Regions from separate parts of the Homo sapiens genome. Here region 1 is linked to region 2. Evidence: fine-mapped expression QTL. Tissue or cell type: blood mononuclear cells. Region 2 holds a variant in brackets; the other region holds the start of a gene. All regions are shown on one strand. Distances are between the middles of the regions.

What was found. PIP is the estimated chance that this variant, and not a neighbour inherited with it, causes the effect.
Region 1: it holds the start of ZFP2, and the variant in region 2 is fine-mapped to the expression of ZFP2 in blood mononuclear cells (TOPMed, PIP 0.95).

The regions. Positions count from the first base shown.
Region 1 is chr5:178,894,083-178,898,245 of GRCh38, forward strand. It overlaps ZFP2 (ZFP2 zinc finger protein), which reads left to right and starts at 1,831. Exons shown (of 5, transcript NM_030613.4): 1 at 1,831-1,892. RefSeq lists an enhancer at 1,544-1,733 and silencers at 1,844-1,953, 2,024-2,073.
Region 2 is chr5:178,956,180-178,960,342 of GRCh38, forward strand. The region is part of intron 4 of ZNF454 (zinc finger protein 454); the gene reads left to right. Among named protein-coding and RNA genes, the nearest start is that of ZNF454, 17 kb to the left of the region's middle. The variant A/G (reference allele first, on the strand shown) is at 1,924.

The sequences.
Region 1 (4,163 bases), 62 kb before region 2:
CCTTTCTTACAGCTCTCTGGGATTTGGCATTATTTCAGGTTTGCCAAGAAAATAACATCCGTTTCCAAGATTTAAAATGTTGCTGGTGTGTCCTTACTTGTTTTTCCTGACCTTGTGAATTAACAAGTTTTCAAACAATCTGTTACATTTGCTTTTAGTGGTACAGAGGAGGCAAAATACATTTTTCTTGCGCGTCCTATGTTGGTGGCTGAGACCCCTAAGACAAAAGACAAATTAACAAGAGCAAAACATACAAGTTTCTTTAATACAAGTTTTACATGACACAGCAGCCTACATAAGGAAATGAAGTCCCAAAGAAACAGTTAAAGTTGTGTATTTTTATGCTAAATTTGATGAAGTCACAGAGAAATATAAATGGACAAAGAGGATATGATCTAATAGTAATACACTGGGGGCAACTTAGCAAGGCCTGTTTGTTCAAGAGTTTTCTCTGTGACTGTGTGTCTTCAGCAATAAAGATGTTACTTTCCTCCAGGTATAGGGAGTGCAAATCTCACATGAGAATCTTACGACCTGCTTCAGGGGACGTTAGGAAATTCTTCCTAGGTTTTACAACCTGCTTCGTGGGAGATGTGTGGAAAAGTCCTTCCTGTTTCTGCTGTTTTCTCAAATGATGAGGTGCCATATTTTGGCAGTGAGTGTGTGTGTCCTGAACTATATCAGTACGTGTTAGGAGGGAACAAAATTAGATGTGTTGTACCCAATCTGCCTTCTTTTCTTCTTTACTGTATGCTTTGAAGGCTGCAAAATTTCCTCTAAATATTCCCTTTACCTAAATCTTTTCTAAAAAGTTTCTAGTCTTTTAAAAAATGTTTAGCTTAATTACATTGTCAAAGAATATGGTCTTGTGTGATACCAATTGCTTGAAATGTGTTGAGGCTACTTTACAGACTAGTATGAGATCATTTCTTAAGTAAATATATGCTTTTCCATGTGTTTTCTTCAGTTTTGGGGTGGAGTAGTCTACATGTCTATTCATTAACATAAAACTAATTTTGCTTTTCAAATATTTCATATCTATAGTGACCTTTTTGTCAGCTTTTCTATTAGTTACTGAGAAGGTAGGTTAAAAACTCTGAGGCCAGGGTGGTGGCTGACGCCTATAATCCCAGCATTTTGGGAGGCCAAGGCAGGAGCGTTGCTTGAGCCCAGAAGTTTGAGACCAGCTTGGGCAACAGAGTAAGATCCCATCTGTACAAAAAAGAAAGAAAACAAAATTAAAAATGGGTTCTGCCCATGTTTGCTTTATGTATTTTGTATCTTATGTTATTAAATACATAAAAGTTTAAAATATTTTATTTGCTGGTAAATTAATGCCTTTTTTTTTTTTTTAAGACACTCTCTTGCTCTTGTCACCCAGGCTGGAGTGAGGTGGCGCAATATCGGCTCACTGCAACCTCTGCCTCTCAGGTTCAAGTGATTTTCTTGTCTCAGCCTCCCGAGTAGCTGGGACTACAGGTGCCCGCCACCACGCCTGGCTAATTTTTTTTGTATTTTTAGTAGAGACAGGGTTTCACCATGTTAGCCAGGCTGGTCTTGAATTCCTGACCTCAGGTGATTCACCCACCCGCCTCCCAAAGTGCTGAGATTGCAGGCCTGGCCAGAGAGACGACTTTAGCCGGGGTAAGGGGCCGCCTGGGAACCCCGCGTCCCGCCTGGACACACCGATGACCTGCAGAGGCCACACCGTGGGCCACCTCAGCTGGCCACTGGCACAGCCTTGCCCTCTGGGGCCCCGTTCTCGCACACGCCGACGGCCTGGCCGCACTGCAGCCCCGCAGCCTTGTGGGAAATGTAGTCTGGCGCTCCGGGCTGTAAGCGCCGGTCGCGGCTGTGTCGGTCGCCGCTGCTCCCGCTCCTGCTGGGAGAGGGTGAGTGCGGGGCCGGTGGCGGGGGCGCGCGCCATCCGTGAGTCTTGTAGGCCCCCGCAGGAGGAGCTCCGGATTGCGGGGCGAGGCCCCAGCTTCCTGAGGGTTGAGGGGCGGGCCCGCAGCAGATGGGCCGGGGGTGCGGCCTCACTGCGCCTGTGGAGCGCCGGGCCTCCGGCTCCAGGTGCGCTCCCTCTTCCCCAGGAGCTGGCGGCGGGAGCACGCTGGCAGCTGAGTGTCCTTCGGCGCTGTCCTGGGCAGGCGCCGAGGTGGAATCACAGCCCCGGAGCAGCGGGGATGGGGGCTCGAACAAGGGCCACGCCGGCCACCACGGGTCAGGGAGGGGCCCAAGGTTCCAAGAGTCGCTCGGACCCGGGTTCCTCCCTGGCTTTCCCCAGCCGCGCGCAGCTTTGTCCCGGGACACGCTGCGACCGTGGAGCGAACCTAACCCGCGGACATCCCGGGGATTCTGGGCCAGAGGCTGGGTCTCCCTGTGCAGCATCTGCCCTTTGTGTAAACCGGGTCTCCGGACCCGCCCTCTGGATCTCATTCCGAGAGCGCTGGCGTGGGCTCCCCTCCCATCTCACAATAAGAATGGGGAGGCCAACCTGGTGCAGGTTTCGACCTCGGGGAATCTTTTCTTTTTTTCCTTAAGCGATTTCACTGTAGCACAACTGGAAAATTGAGATTAAAACAATCATTCAAAATCTATCTCCATCTGCATGGCAGCGTGGATATGTGTATAAGCATAGAAACACTTTGTACTTTGTTTTTAAACAGAAATATGAATATTAGCAGCTTTTTCTCCATCTATCTTTTAAAACTGAGTCATGAGATGCATTTGGTAAGGGGTTTGAAGTGCACAAATCTTAAGCCTTGTAATTTTTTACTGGCCTAAACACCCAATGAAGATAGAGAATACATCTGAAAAAAACATTGGAATATGTTGACACCATCTACTTATACCAGATTTTAAATAGAGCTACGTCATTTTAATGAGTGTGAGGGAAAGTATGGATGTGTCGTATTGAATCCTCTCCTTAGGTTTTTGTGTTAGGGTTTTCTTTTTTCTTTTTTTTTTTCAGTATTATAAACAGTATAGGCCATCTGGCTACATACATCTTTGCATTTTGTCTTATTCTATAAATCTCTTAAAGTGAAATTTCTAGGTCCAGGGTACAGTAAGGATTTTGATACCTCCTGTCTTATTCCCTCCAGAAAAGTTGCAGTTTATATAAACACTTGCAGTGTAAGAGTGCCAGATTTACCCACACCAACTGTGAATGTTAGTATTCTCTTGAACTTCTGAGAGGTGCAAAAGATAGGATTGTTTACATTTGCATTTTGAACACTAATGAATATTTTCACGCAGTTTGCATTTTGTATTTTAATTTTGTATCTGATACATAAGCATGTTTCCTGACTGTGCAGAAACGTCACAGGTTCTTATGGTCACACATGAAAACCTTTTCTTCACGTTTGGGTGTTTGACATCACTGGCAGAGAAGCTGTCTGTCCCACGAGATTACAAAAATGTTTGTAGTTTCTCTTAGTACTTTCATTTTTTGTGTACATTTTTATTTTTTTCCAAATGGTAAGCCTTTGTTACAAGTTACTTAGTAATTTTTTCTTCGTTGATATGAAATGTCACTTATTTCATATCTTGAATGAAATATATATATACACACACATACATAAATACATGTGTATTTGAACCATTTAGGTTGGTAGAATTTTAATTTGTTCCATTGATGCTTTTCCCTGTTCGGCTATAACATCCATGATTGCGGAGAGTTTATCTGTTTTATTTACAGCTGTATCCACCCCTACCCCATGCAATGGTGCCTAGTATACAGTAGGTGGTCAACAATGTATCTGGTAAATAAGTCAGTAATATTGTGTTCCAATTCTTGTAGCTTTATGAATACTGGTGGGCAAGTTGTCTCTCATCAGTATTCTTTTTTAAAAAAGTCTTAGTTGTTGTAACACACAACTTAAATATTTTTTCCATAATTAGTGAACTTCTTTTTTTTTATTGAGACGGAGTCTTGCTCTGTCACCGAGGCTAGAGTGCAGTGGTGTGATCTCGACACTGCAACCTCTACCTCCCCGGTTCAAGTGATTCTCCTGCCTCAGACTCCTGAGTGGCTGGGATTACAGGCGCCCACCACCACTCTCTAATTTTTGTATTTTTGGTAGAGACAGGATTTTGCCATTTTGGCCAGGCTGGTCTCGAACTCCTGGCCTCAAGTGGTCCACCCACCTTGGCCTCCC
Region 2 (4,163 bases):
TTGCCTTTTTCAAAAATAAGCTCTTATTCCTGTTTTACAGTTAAAATATCTTACATTTAAAGATAATGATTTTCAAAGACATTTTCTTCTCCCATCATTGGGTCCGTTTTCTCTAGTTTTCTGTTTGATGATTTTGGTATTTCTTTCTTGTGAGAAGCTTTCCTCAGTTACAGCTAGTAATCCCTCATTGCCTATCCAGGCAGTGGGAAGACTAACGTCCTTTTTGGACGTTCTGGGTAAGTGGGGCTTCAGTCTTCAACACAGTTCTCCGGCCCCAACACAGTTCTCCCGCCCCAGGCATCTTCCGTCCAGAGCAACTTTGTTTTGCTCTCCTGAAAAGAAAAAAAAAAAAAAAAAAAGCCTCAAGTCTTTTGCCACATTGAGAAAGGGCAAATCCCCCAGTTCCCTTGAGTTGGGAAAAGGATGGGAAGAGGATCTGGGCACCTAAGGTCAGGGTAAACTGACCTTAAACCAGTCTTTATTTTATTTTATTTAATTTATTTATTTATTTATTTATTTATTTATTTATTTATTTATTTATTTTGAGACGGAGTCTCTCTCTGTCACTCAGGCTGGAGTGCAGTGGCACGATCTCGGCTCACTGCAAGCTCTGCCTCCCGGGTTCATACCATTCTCCTGCCTCAGCCTCCCGAGTAGCTGGGAATACAGGCGCCCGCCACCATGCCCGGCTAATTTTTTGTATTTTTTGTTTGTTTGTTTTTTTAGATGGAGTCTCACTCTGTTACCAAGCTGGAGTGCAGTGGTACAATCTCGGCTCACTGCAAGCTCCGCCTCCCGAGTTCAAGCGATTCTCCTGCCTCAGTCTCCCGAGTAGCTGGGACTACAGGCGCCTGCCACCACGCCCGGATAATTTTTGTGTTTTTAGTAGAGACAGGGTTTCACCATGTTGGCCAGGGTGGTCTCGATCTCTTGACCTCGTGATCCGCCCACCTCGGCCTCCCAAAGTGCTGGGATTACAGGCGTGAGCCACCGCGCCCGGCCCAGTCTTTCTTATTTTATTCGTCCTAACTTCCACTTCGAGATAAAATTGATGGGACCAATTCTTGAAACTTTAGGTGATTGAGGAGTGAATTGGTCTAGCGTTTGGTCCCTCCCTGGGTGTGACCTCTTGACAACATTATATAGGAGGCTTGGAACATACTACTTGCATGCCACTTCAAAGCCTACATTAAGGATTTTAAAACCATCTTTTTTATTTTTATTTTTTATTTTATTTTATTTTTTTTGGGGACGAAGTCTTACTCAGTCGCCCAGGCTGGAGTGCAGTGGCACGATCTCGGCTCACTGCAAGCTCCACCTCCTGGGTTTAGGCCATTCTCCTGCCTCAGCCTCCCGAGTAGCTGGGACTACAGTCGCCTGCCACCACGTCCAGCTAATTTTTTGTATTTTTAGTAGAGACGGGGTTTCACCGTGTTAGCCAGGATGGTCTCGATCTCCTGACCTCCAATGTAGGTAGGGGTAGGTCTCCTTAATTTAGCCTACCCTGAAGTGACCTGGGACCCAGTGAGTGTGCCTGAGTTGCTCACACCAGAGTGCTCTTTTGTACTGCAGGCTAAATCAGTGCCAGTAAGACCAGTCTTACTGAACTGGATTAATTCACACCTCAATTAATTTTCAGTGTGGTCAAACCGGGATGCATTTGACTCCCCTCTTGGTAAACTCTATTTGAAGATGAGTGTTATCATGTAATATAAAATATTTAAAAAGTCAAATAATTACCCTCAAAAAATATTTCAAGTCATGTATTCTCTTATACATAGATGATGTGTTTTTAATCACAATCAATAAAAGGTTTTAATAGATGTCAGTATCCAATAGCTGATAGAAAAGAAAGCTAGAAATTGGTGTTTTTATTATTTTTGAAAGCCGTCCCCTAGATTTTTTAAAGCAAACTTTTTTGAA[A/G]TTTATACAGAAACTGTTTTCTATATACATCTTTATACTAAAAGTACATAGATCATAAATGTCCAACTCAGTGAATTTTTACTGTTTAAATATATCTGTGTAGTCAGCACTCACATCAAGAAATAGAACGTTACCAGCACCCCTTGTAACCACCCAGTCCCCTCGCAGTTTCTTTTGTCGTAAAGGTAACAACTACTCTGGCAATAGATTTGTTTTGCCTGTTTTTAAACTTTAAATCATACAGTATGTACTCTTTTGTGTCTGGCTTCTTGCTTTCAACAGTATGTCTGAGATTCATCCTTGTTGTCACTTGGAACAATAGTTGGTTCATTCTCATTGCTATATAATGTTTCGCCATATAAACCTGTCATTATTTGTACATTTTACTGTTGCTAGACATTTGGTTTATTTCTAGCTTAGAGCTATTACGAATAGTACCATTATGAACATTTCTTCTGCAACTTTTAGAAAACATAGGTACACATTTTCCTTGATTAAATAGCTAGGAGTGCTATGATTATGCATATGCAAACTCTAACAGACAGAGCCAAATAGTTTTCCGAAGTGGTTATACTAATTTATACTCCTACCGGCGAAATGCAAGGTTTCCATATCAACTCTTATACACGTAGTATTATCGTTACAAAAGGTTTTCTACCATTCTAGAGGATGTATGGTTATAACTGAAGTTGATCTTCTTACTTTTAGAATTTCAATACCCTCTTTTTTAAAGTATCTATACATCTTTGCCCCACTTTTATTTTGTTGTCTGATCTTTTGTTATTGGCTTATAGGGCTGTATATTTGAAATGCAGAATCTTGTCATATATATGCAAATATTGTTTCCCACTCTGGATAATGATGTCATCTGATAAATAGAAATTCTGAATTTTGAGATACCTGAATTCATCAGAGGTCTTTTTTTTTTCTTTTTCTGCCTATGGTTAACGCTTGTTGTGTTCTATTTAGGACATCTTAAGCACATGAAGATCTGTGTTTTCCTATAGTAGCTGTAGTATTTTGTCTTAAATACTTGAGTCTACAGTCCATATGGAAGATTGATTGCTCATTATTTTCTATAGGGGTATCCAGTTGACCCAGGATCACTTGCTAGAAAGACTGCCTTTTCCCCCATTGTACTGCACTGTCACCTTTGTCATATATGAGGTGACTGCATGTACGTGGGTCTCATTCCGGGTTCCATAATCTGTTCCATTGGTCTGTTTGCATACAGATTTGTTTCTGGACTCTATTCTCTTTCATTCTTTCTGTCTAATCTTGTGCCAACACAACATTGCTTTAGATTACTCGAGCATTATAATAAGCCTTACACTTGCTGACGTAAATTCTCCAGTTTTGTCCTCTTCTTTTAGAATTTTAGAATTGGCTATTCAATTTTCACAAAATTCCTGCTGGAATTTTGATAAGAATTGGGCTGAAAGTGTAGACTAATGGGGGACAATTGAGAATTTGAGGTCAAATGTGTTTATTGGGTTGTTGAGATCATTTCCTTTTTTTTTTGAGACGGAGTCTCGCTCTGTTGCCCAGGCTGGAGTGCAGTGGCACAATCTCAGCTCACTGCAAGCTCCACCTCCTGGGTTCACGCCATTCTGCTGCCTCATCCTCCTGAGTAGCTGGGACTACAGGCGCCCACCACCACGCCTGGCTAATTTTTTGTATTTTTAGTAGAGACGGGGTTTCACCGTGTTAGCCAGGATGGTCTCGATCTCCTGACCTCGTGATCCACCCGCCTCGGCCTCCCAAAGTGCTGGGATTACAGGCATGAGCCACCGTGCCCGGCCCCTTTTTTTCTTTTCTTTTCTTTTTTTCTTTCTTTTCTTTTCTTTTCTTTTTTTTGTTTTTTGAGACAAGTTCTTGCTCTGTTGCCCAGGCTGGAGTGCAGTGGTGTGATCATTGTTCATGGCAACCTTGAACTCCTGGGCTTATGGCGATCCTCCCACCTCAGCCTCCTGAGTAGCTGGGACTACAGGAACACATCACCATGCCTGGCTGATTTTTAAAATTTTTTGTAGAGACGAGGTTTCACCATATTGCCCAGTCAGGTCTTGGACTCCTAGACTCAAGCGGTCCTCCTGCCTTGGCCTCCCAAAGCACTGGGATTACAAGCATGAGCCACTGTGTCCAGCCCATTCCTTTTCTTTTTTTTTTTTTGAAACGTAGTTTCGCTCTTGTTGCCCAGGCTGGAGTGCAATGGAAAGATCTTGGCTCACTGCAACTTC